2 separate regions of the Homo sapiens genome follow, and region 1 is linked to region 2. The links come from fine-mapping of genetic effects on gene expression. A gene starts in region 2. The other region holds a variant in brackets. All regions are shown on one strand. Distances are from middle to middle. Region 1 overlaps CEP20 (centrosomal protein 20). Region 2 holds the start of CEP20 (centrosomal protein 20).

Region 1 (5,000 bases), 25 kb after region 2:
AAATTGGCATCCTCTTTAGGGTGTCAATTCTGTGCTGCTTTGCAAATTGTTGAAACTTTTGATTTTCTGTTTGGCAATGCTAGTCAGTGTTCACTTCTTACAGATTAGCCAAGAATTTTTATCTAAATGCAGAAACTTATTAATGAAATCCATTTAAACTATACTTACACAACATTTTGGGAGGCCCTGCTGGTAAAATTATATATGGATGCAGAAGTATTGCAAGAGTCCATTTTCCATTTTTAAATCTGCAATATCTGATTACATTGATGAATTCCGTTGTATTGTATGTGTGAATATAAATATCTGAATTCTCCCGGGGGACTTGGTTTTCGTCCAAGGATGTTGGCAGTGGACACTTAGTTTACCTCAGGAATTGCAATCATGTAAGACTATATTCGGAAAAAATGCTGGAGTATATAATTTTGGATACTGATATAAAATCATCAAGATGGAAGTTAAGCAGAATTGTCACGTGTAGTCCATAGCGCTTTTATATGCATTATTCTGTAATTTGTTTGTACTGCGGCAACTTTTTATACTTTCAATGTATCATTTAATAAAAAAAATAAGCAAGTCACTTTGGTGCAAAGGGTGTTCATATCACTGTTCTCTCATCAAAAGCCACACATCAAAAACAGAAGAATGATTGGAGATGGCTGCCATGCCTTCCGTCGGGATCTTCAGAAGCTTCGCTGTTGAGGGGTGGAGGCGGGGGTACTTTCCTGCCGTCTGCACATGTTTATAGGAAGGAAGGAAAAGCACAGAGGACAAGCCAACCCTTCTCATAAATGTGTTATATTTAAGTACCTTACTCGTGGGTTTCTTGGAATTGTCGGGAGAACTTATCTTCTAGAGATGCTCCAGAAGTTTTAGGAGAAAACTTGGATTTACACAAAAACAGGATGGGAATGGGAACTGAAGAGGGATTTAGGAAATGTACAACTTGGGTGATCTAAAACCTCATAGCAGGAGCAGAGGTGGCTTTTGAAGAAGATAAATTTAAGCTTAGTGTATATGCTTGCACAGAACAAACTAATAGCCTTATAATGATGTGCAAGAACACATTTGTGTATCACTCACATACCTTTATGTTGATGTAAAATTTGATGTGTTCTTTTAAAGCCAAGTGTACATGAAAGATGAACATTTGTGAGAATATGCCTTTAAAGGCATTTGGGACAATGCTTCCCGGCCACTTGGTACTTGATTTTTTGGTAACAACCACGATTCGAGGATTGTGTGGTGTTCAGGAATCTTATTAAAATAAAAGTGAAATAAAACTGCTGGCCAGGCTTGGTGACTCAGGCCTGTAATCCCAGCACTTTGGGAGGCCGAAGCGGGTGGATCACCTGAGGTCAGGAGTTTGAGACCAGCCTGACCAATATGATGAAACCCCATCTCTACTAAAAATTAAAAAATTAGGCGCGGTGGCATGCGCCTGTAATCCCAGTTACTCAGGAGGCTGAGACAGGAGAATCACTTGAACTGTGGAGGTGGGGGTTGCAGTGAGCTAAGATCGAGCCATCGCACTCCAGCCTGGGCAACGAGTGAAATTCCGTCTCAAAAAATAAAAAATAAAAAAAAAAAAGCTACCTTTAGGCTGGGCATGGTGGCTCACGCCTGTAATCCCGGCACTTTGGGAGGCCAAGGCGGGCGTATCACCTGAGGTCAGGAGTTCGAGAGCAGCCTGGCAAACATCGCAAAACCCTATTTCTACAAAAAATACAAAATTAGCCAGGCGTGGTGGCATGTGCCTGTAATCCCAGCTACTGGGGAGGCTGAGGCAGGAGAATCGCTTGAACCCAGGAGGCGGAGGTTGCAGTGCGCTGAGATCACGCCATTGCACTCCAGCCTGGGCGACAGAGTGAGACTATTCTCTGGAAAAAAAAAACAAAACAAAACTACTTTTATAAAAGTAGACTCGTTTTTTAGAGCAGTTTTAGGTTCATGGCTAAATGGACTGGAAGCACAGAGCTCCTGACTGCCCCCTGCACCCATGCATGTCTAGCTTCTCCCACTGTCAAGATCCGGCATCGAGTGGCACATGTATTCCAATGGGTGGATCTATTTTGACACATTATTATCACAAAAAGTCCATAGTTACATTAGGGTTCACTCTTGGTATTGTACAGATGCTCTTTGACTCATGGGATTACATCTCAAAACTATCACAAGTTGAAAATAAGTCAAAATGCATTTATTTATTTATTGGATAGGGTCTCACTCTAGCACCCAGGCTGCAGTGCAGTTGTGCGATCTGGGCTCACTGCAACCTCCGCCTCCAAGGCTCAAGTGGTCCTTTGCCTCAGTCTCCTGAATAGCTGGGACTATAGGCACATGCCACCACACCTGGTGAATTTTTGTATTTTTTGTAGAGACAGGATCTCACTATGTTGCCCAGGCTGGTCTCGAACTCCTGAATCCAAGTGATCTGCCCATCTTAGCCTCACAAAGTACTGGGATTACAGATGTGAGCCACCATGCCCAGCCCAAAATGTATTTAATACACCTCACCTACCGAGCATCTTAGCTTAGCCTAGCCTACTTAACATGTTCAGGTCACTTAGATTAGCCTACCATTGGGCAAAATTATCAAACACAAATCCTATTTTATAATAAAGTGTTGACCATCTCATGTAATTTATTGAATACTGTATTGAAAGTGAAAAAACATGGTTTTGTCGGTATTCAAAGTACGGTTTCACTGAATGCACCATTTTCCCACCTTCATAAAGTTGAAAAATCGTTAAGTTTAACCATTATAAGTTGGGGACTGCCTGCACATTCCATGGTTTTGGACAGATGTCTAGTGACATGTATTCACCATTTTAGTATCATGCAGA[G/A]GAGTGTCACTGCCCTAGAAAATCTTCTCTACTCCACCTATTCCTGTCTCTTCCAGAATGTTGTATAGTTGGAATCGTACAGTACGTGGCCTTTTCAGATTAGCATCTTTCATTTAGTAACAAGCATTTAAGTTTTCTTCCTGCCTTTTTTTTTTTTTAGACAGAGTCTCGCTCTGTCACCCAGGCTGGAGTGCAGTGGTACGATCTCGGCTCACAGCAAACTCCATCTCCCTGATTCAAGCGATTCTCCTGCTTCAGCCTCCTGAGTAGCTCAGATTACAGGTGTCCACCATCACACCTGGTTAATTTTTGTATTTTTAGCAGAGACAGGGTTTCACCATGTTGGCCAGGCTGAACTCGAACTCCTGACCTCAGCTGATCCATCTGCCTTGACCTCCCAAAGTGCTGGGATTACAGGCATGAGCCACAATGCCCAGCTGTAATTTTCCTTCGTCTTTTCATGCCTTGATAGCTCATTTGTTTTTAGCACTGAATAATATTCCATTGTTATGTATCCATTCACCTACTGAGGGACATCTTGGCTGCTTCCAAGTTTTGGCGATAGTGAGTAAAGCTGTTATAAACTTCATGTGCGTGCAGGGTTTTGTATGGACAGAAGTTTTCAACTCTTTTGGGCAAATCCTAAGAAGAATTTTCTGGATTATATGGTAAGAGCGTGTTTGTTTTTGTTTCTGTTTGTTTGTTTGTTTTTGTTTTTTTATTGAGACGGAGTTTCACTTTTGTCGCCCAGGCTAGAGTGCAATGGCATGATCTTGGCTCACTGCAACCTCTGCCTCTCAGGTTCAAGCGATTCTCCCACCTCAGCCTCCTGAGTAGCTGGGATTACAGGCGCCCGCCACCATGCCTGGCTAATTTTTGTGCTTTTAGTACAGATGGGGTTTCACCATGTTGGCCAGGCTGGTCTCGAACTCCTGACCTCAGGAGATCCACCTGCCTCAGCCTCCCAAAGTGCTGGGATTACAGGCGTGAGCAACCGTGCCCTGTGTGTTTCATTTTTAAAAAACTGTAGAACTACTTTTATTGAGAGTTTTAGGACCCTTCCTGATAGACATAGAGAATCTATCAGGAATGTCATGAACCAAATCGTGACATCAGAATTGGAAACTGATGATGAAGGAAAGAGCATTGCAGGTTACTATGCAATGCAGTCTAGTATCGGGAGAAGTGTGAGGTCCATCATGGGGGCCACCATGAGTGAAACAAAAGTGCTTTTGTGCAAGAGTTGGAGCATGGCCCTGCTTGTGGTCAGGAACGATGTTCCTTTATTCACAGATCTTGGGCCAGATCTACCTGACTCTATATGAGTCAAGTAGATCAAGGCTGATAACACTTTAAAATTATTAAATCTTCTTTTTTTTTTTTTTGAGATGGAGCCTCTCTCTCTAGCCTAGGCTAGAGTGCAATGGTGTGATCTTGGCTCACTGCAACCTCCACCTCCCAGGTTCAAGGGATTCTCCTGTCTCAGCCTCCCAAGTAGCTGGGACTACAGGCGTGCACAACCACACCCGACTAGTTTTTGTATTTTTAGTAGTGATAGGGTTTTACCATGTTGGCCAGGCTGGTCTCGAACTCCTGACCTCAAGTGTTCCCTCCACCTTGGCCTCCCAAAGTGCTGGGATTACAGGTGTGAGCCACTGTGCCCGGCCAAAAAATATTAAATCTTGAGGCACATGCAGGAGTAAGCCATGCTCAGACCCAATCTTCGATGTTACTAAAAATTGGAGGGGATCACACTTCATGGTTTTGTTTTGTTTTGTTTTTTTGAGACAGGGTCTTGCTCTGTTGCCCAGGCTGGAGTGCACTGGTACGATCACAGTTCACTGCAGCCTCAAACTCTGGGGCTCAAACAATCCTCCTACTTCACTCTCTAGTTGGGACTACAGGCACACACTGCTGTGCTCGACTAATTATTATTATTATTATTATTATTATTATTATTATTATTATTATTATTTTGTAGAGACAGGGATCTTGCTATGTTACCTAGGCTGTTCTTGAACTCCTGGGCTCAAGCGATCCTTCCGCTGCAGCCTCTCAAAGTGCTAGGATTACAGGCATGCCCAGCCACTTTGGGGCTTTTTTAAGCCAACAGCAAAAAAAGACTATAAGAGAGAAATTTCCCCTTGGCTGTCT
Region 2 (5,524 bases):
TTTGTTTTGTTTGCTCGGTTTTTTTGTTTGTTTGTTCGTTTTGGTTTTTTTTGACACGGAGTTTCACTCTTGTCGCCCAGGCTGGAGCACAGCGGCGTGATCTCGGCTCACTGCAACCTCCACCTCCCAGGTTCAAACGATTCTCCTGCCTCAGCCTCCCGAGTAGCTGGGATTACAGATGCCTGCCACCATGCCCAGCTAATTTTTGTATTTTTGGTAGAAATGGGGTTTCACCATGTCGGCCAGGCTGGTCTCAAACTCCTGACCTCAGGTGATCTGCCCTCCTCGGCCTCCCAAAGTGCTGGGATTACAAGCGTGAGCCACCGTGCCTGGCTGTTTGCTCTTTTGTTTTGTTTTGTTTTGTTTTGAGTCGGAGTCTTACTCTGTTCCCCAGGCTGGAGTGCAACCTCTGCACCCCTGGCTCACTGCAACCTCTGCCTCCTGGGTTCAAGCAATTTTCCTGCCTCAGCCTCCCGAATAGCTGGGATTACAGGCCTCTGCCACCACGCCCGGCTAATTTTTGTATTTTTAGTAGAGATGGGGTTTCACTGTGTTGGCCAGGCTGGTCTCGAATTCCTGACCTTGTGATCTGCCTGCCTCAGGCCTCCCAAAGTGCTGGGATTACAAGCGTGAACCACCGCACCCGGCCTTGTTTGCTCGTTTTTAAAGACAGGTTCTCCCTATGCTGCCCAGGCTGTTCCCCCTCCCTTTAAAAAAAATAGTTAACAATTATTGATTGTATATTTCAAAATAGCTAGAATACTTGTAATGCTTCCAACACAAAGAATGTTTGAGGTGATGTTTATCCCAATTGCCTTGACTTGATAATTACACATTGTATATGTGTATCAAAATATCACGTCCCTCCCCATAATTGTGATATATCAATTTTTCTTTCTCTCTTTTTCTTTTCTTTTTTTTTTTTTTTTTTTTTTTTTTTTGAGAAAGGGACTCACTCTGTCGCCCAGAGTGGAGTGCAGTGGTACAATCAGCCGTCCAGGCTCAAGTGATCCTCTCTCCTCAGCCTCTCGAGTAGCTGGCATGCACCATCATATCTGGCTAATTTTTTTTTTTTTTTGTAGAAATGCGTCTCATGTTGCCCAGCTTGGTCTAGAACTCCTGAGCTCAAGCAATCCTCTATCCTCGGCCTCTGGAGTAACTGGGACTACAGGCATGCACCACCATGCCCGGCTAATTTTTTGTATTTATTTTGGAGAGATGGGGTCTTGCATTGCCCAGGCTGATCTCAAACTCCCGAGCTTAAGCAATCCTCCCTCCTCGTCCTCCCAAAGTGCTGGGATTACAGGGATGAGCCACCGCACCTGGCCAATGTATCAGTTTTAAAAACAATAGGCATGGAACCAAAAGTATGCTGGAAGTTCCTCGGAAAGAGGTTTCCTTGCTCTTAGGTGGTTTTTTTTTTTTTTTTTTTTTGAGGCGGTGTCTCGCTCTGTCGTCCAGGTTGGAGTGCAGTAGCGCGATCTCATCTCACTGCAACCTCTGCCTCCCAGGTTCAAGCGATTCTTGTGCCTCAGCCTCCCAAGTAGCTGGGATTACAGGCTCCTGCTACCACGCCCGGCTAATTTTTGTACTTTTTTTTTAGTACAGAGGGGGTTTCACCAGGCTGGCCAGGCTGTTCTCGAACTCCTTACCTCAGTCTCCCAAAGTGCTGGGATTCCAGGCGTAAACCACCGTGCCCTGGCAGCTCTTAGGTGTACTTTTTTTTTTTTTTTTTTGAGACGGAGTCTCACTCTGTCGCCCAGGCTGGAGTGCAGTGGTGCCATCTCGGCTCACTGCAAGCTCCACCTCCCGGGTTCACGCCATTCTCCTGCCTCAGCCTCCCGAGTAGCTGGGAGTACAGGCGCCCGCCAGCACGCCCGGCTAATTTTTTGTATTTTTAGTAGAGACAGGGTTTCACCGTGTTAGCCAGGATGGTCTCGATCTCCTGACCTCGGGATCCGCCCGCCTCGGCCTCCCAAAGTGCTGGGATTACAGGCGTGAGCCACCGCGCCCGGCCACTCTTAGGTGTACGTCTAATCGATGTTTATTATTTAGCCAAGTGTTTGGATCTCACCGGCATTACAACTGGAATCATGCAACCTCACACTCAGTTTAGGGTACATTATTCCCCTGTTCCTTTTCCTTTACTTCCATGGGATGTTGGAGCTTATTCCTTCATTAGTTAGTTCCATAAAAAGCTCCTGGACTCCTTACATGCACTGTGTAAGTGCGAGTGGAAGAGGACAGGCTGGTGACCTTGGTTAAGTCTCTTCAGCGATGGAGGACTCTGTTTCCTTCATTGTAAAAACGGCGTGATCATAAGGAAATAATGCGCTAAGGCGTCACAGTAAGTGCTTAATACAGTGGTTCTCGAGGTGTGATCTCCAGACCGACCAGCAGTACCAGTACCACCTGGGAACTCGATAGAAATGCAAATCCTAGGGCCTCACCCCAGATTTACAGAATCAGAAACTCTATGGGGAGGACTAGCAAACAATCCGTTTAAACAAGTCTTGGAGGTGATGAGGATTCATGCTCAAGTTTGAGAACCGCAGGGTTAATAGGTGGTAACTACTAGCAGTTGGTACTTGAGGCTGCAGAGACAATGAAAAACTCAGCTGGCTAAAGTTAAGCACTAAGGTGCCAGCAGCACCCCACAGGGCTCTCCACTGCCTCAGTCCCCGCCCTCCCTGCCGTCTCACTCAACTGGGCCTTCCGAGAGCGCTCGCTGATTGGTGGAGTCTCTGGTCGACATTCACTACCCACTCAACCGCAGAGCTCATAAACTGAGAGGGGCGGAAGTGGGCGGGGCGAGAGCTGTGCGCCTATTGGCTACAGACCACGCCGCAGGGTGAGTGGGGCGGAGCTGCGCGTGCGCAGGGCCGCGGTGCGGCCCTGGCGGCCGTTGAAAAATGGCGACTGTGGCAGAGTTGAAGGCTGGTGAGTGCGAGCAGGGAGGCCTCCACATGGGAAGCGTCGGGCCTTCATCTTGTGGAAAGGATGGGATGGGAGGAGAGCGCGCGGAACACATGGGTTGGCTTTTACAGGCGTCATTCTTCGGTGTGAGGGCCTGCGGGGAGCGTCTGGCTGCTGTCTTGGCCCGTGCGCGGGGAGCTCTTATGGGGAAGAGGTTGCCCACTGGCGAGTTTTAAGCCAGTTTGGAGCTAAAGGAGGAGTTGCGTAATCTTCAGGCATCTAAGAGGCCTACAGGCCTGCATCTTGGGCCCCTGGCTCATCTTCTTGGACCCTGCCGGGGGCTGGAGGACTTGGACCAGGCTTGGCACTCAGGGCTGATGACTACAATTCCCACAACCCCTATTGGGTTAGGCACTGCCCTAAACAATTTGCTTGGTTGTCTCGTTGGGTCCTTACAACAACCTGTTAAGTAGCCCTCCCCTCCTTGCTTTTTTTTTTTTTTTTTAAAGAGAGGGTCTCTCTGTCGCCCAGGCTGGAGTGCAGTAGCGCGATCACAGCTCACTGCAGCTTCGAACTCCGGGACTCCAGCTATCCTCCCACCTCAGCTTCCAGAGCAGGTGGGAATACAGGGGCTCTTCACTACGCCCGGCTAATTTTTGTATTTTTTGTAGACACGGGGTCTTACTGTCGAACTCCTGGTCTCAAGCTATCCTCCTGCCTTGGCCCCCTCAAAGTGCTGGGATTACAGGTGTGAGCGCCTGGCCCCTTTTTCATCAGAAGAAACTAGAGGCAAAAAGTTTGCTGGCCTGGCCATTCTCCTGTCTTTTCAGGAAAAGATACTCTAAGCTAGTTATGTTTGAGTCATTAATGACATTTGTACGCTGTTTACTTTGAAGCAAATGTCCAGACAAGTAATAGTAATAATAGTTATCATTGAGCCTCATGTGTCAGGCACTACTCAACTCAGCCTGTGTGTTACCTGATTGTAACAACCCTATGCCCATTTCATAGACTGGGAAACGAGGTACTGAGAAGTGAAATAGCTCAAAGTGATTTCACTGGAAAGAGACACAGCATGGGAACCTAGTTGTGACGCACTGGAGCGCCAGGTCTTAATCACTGAGCAAGATTGCTGTCCAAAAAATAAAACCAGTTCCACTTTGCAGGGAACCCAGGGTTTAAACTAGTAATTCTTAGATATTTTAGGGAGGAGACGTGTATAAAAGTGTGTATTTGGGGACAGGGCTGGTGAACAATCATAAAACAGAACAGGCATGCATCTGTCCACAAGAACAGACTTCACGAGTCTACAGATGCTGTTCCCAGGGAAATACACATCACATGTAATATTGCATACATTTTCAGAGGATTTAAAGGTACACTTGGAATGGGCCAAGCACAGTGGCTCATGCCTGTAATCCTAACACTTTGGGAGGATCGCTTGAGCCCAGAAGTTTAAGACCAGCCTGGCCAACATGGTGAGACCCCATCTTTATTTAAAAAATAAAAATTAAAAAAAAGAGCCGGGCATAGTGGCCTGTGGTAGTTCCAGCTACCCCACAGGCTGAAACAGGAAGATAGCTTGAGCCCAGGAGATAGAGGTGACAATGAGCTACAGTGGTGCCACTGCACTCCAGCCTGGGCAACAAAATGAGACCTTGTCTCAAAAAAAAAAACAAATTAAAAAATAAAATAAAAAAGGTACTCTTGAAATATAAGCGAGGTTAAGACCTTTCCGAAGAAGTTTTGATGGCGCAGTGTTCTAAGCATAATAGAGGGAAAGGTAAAATGCTATGGACCTCCAAAAGAAACCCGGTGAAAACTTGTTTGCCAGCCAGTTACCTTACATTTTATGGGCATTTACCTTTTTTAAGCACGATCACGTTTTTCCTTCTTACTTGGTTCTATCTCTGAGAGGTAGAGCTCATTATTTTAGAGAAGGCAACTGAGGCATGGGTTGGTAATCCACCACTGAGGTGCTGATGAGACATGCTAGCTTTCCTCATTCCACTGTCACTAATTCTCGTTTCTCTGTCCAGTTTGAGGCTGTCCTGTGTGCAATACAGAGTAATTGGGACAGGATCCTTGCCAGTGACAAAATCTCTCCATCCAATTTCCAAAGATGGAATTAGAGAATAGGGGTTCAGTTATGATTCTAAGAGTACAATAAGGCTGTACCTTCCTTTTATGGACCTGTTACAAACTCTGATCTGGTGATAACTGTACTTAACCTATCTGCAAGAAGGTTGAAGGGATGCTTTAAAAATGAGGGGAAAGAAAGGTCAAAAGTCAGTGAAGATTCTATCTCTTTAGTCATATGATCCAGGGTTATTGTTGACGTTATTTATTGAAGCTTAGAAAGATCTTATGTCCATACTGACTTGGATAAGCTCCTGGGCTCTCTTTATGGATTTTTGTTATTGTGATGTACTTACTTGGTGCCTTTGGCAGGGTGCAGAACAGTGTTAAACTACATTGATTTCCCAGTAGTGTACAGCAATGTATTATAATCCTTCTAGGTGACACCTACTGAGCTCTTGCTCTGTTCTTGACTCTGTGGATGAGATGTGTTCATTCTCTGAAGTTGTCATTTAGCCAGTAGGAACTG

The links. PIP is the estimated chance that this variant, and not a neighbour inherited with it, causes the effect.
Region 1: its variant is the best candidate, but not a certain one, in a credible set for the expression of CEP20 in aorta (GTEx, PIP 0.68).

What each region holds. Positions count from the first base shown.
Region 1 is chr16:15,861,299-15,866,298 of GRCh38, reverse strand. It overlaps CEP20 (centrosomal protein 20), which reads left to right. Exons shown (of 5, transcript NM_144600.4): 5 at 1-580. Among named protein-coding and RNA genes, the nearest start is that of MYH11, 6.8 kb to the right of the region's middle. The variant G/A (reference allele first, on the strand shown) is at 2,847.
Region 2 is chr16:15,885,974-15,891,497 of GRCh38, reverse strand. It overlaps CEP20 (centrosomal protein 20), which reads left to right and starts at 2,895. Exons shown (of 5, transcript NM_144600.4): 1 at 2,895-2,940. The coding sequence starts at 2,913.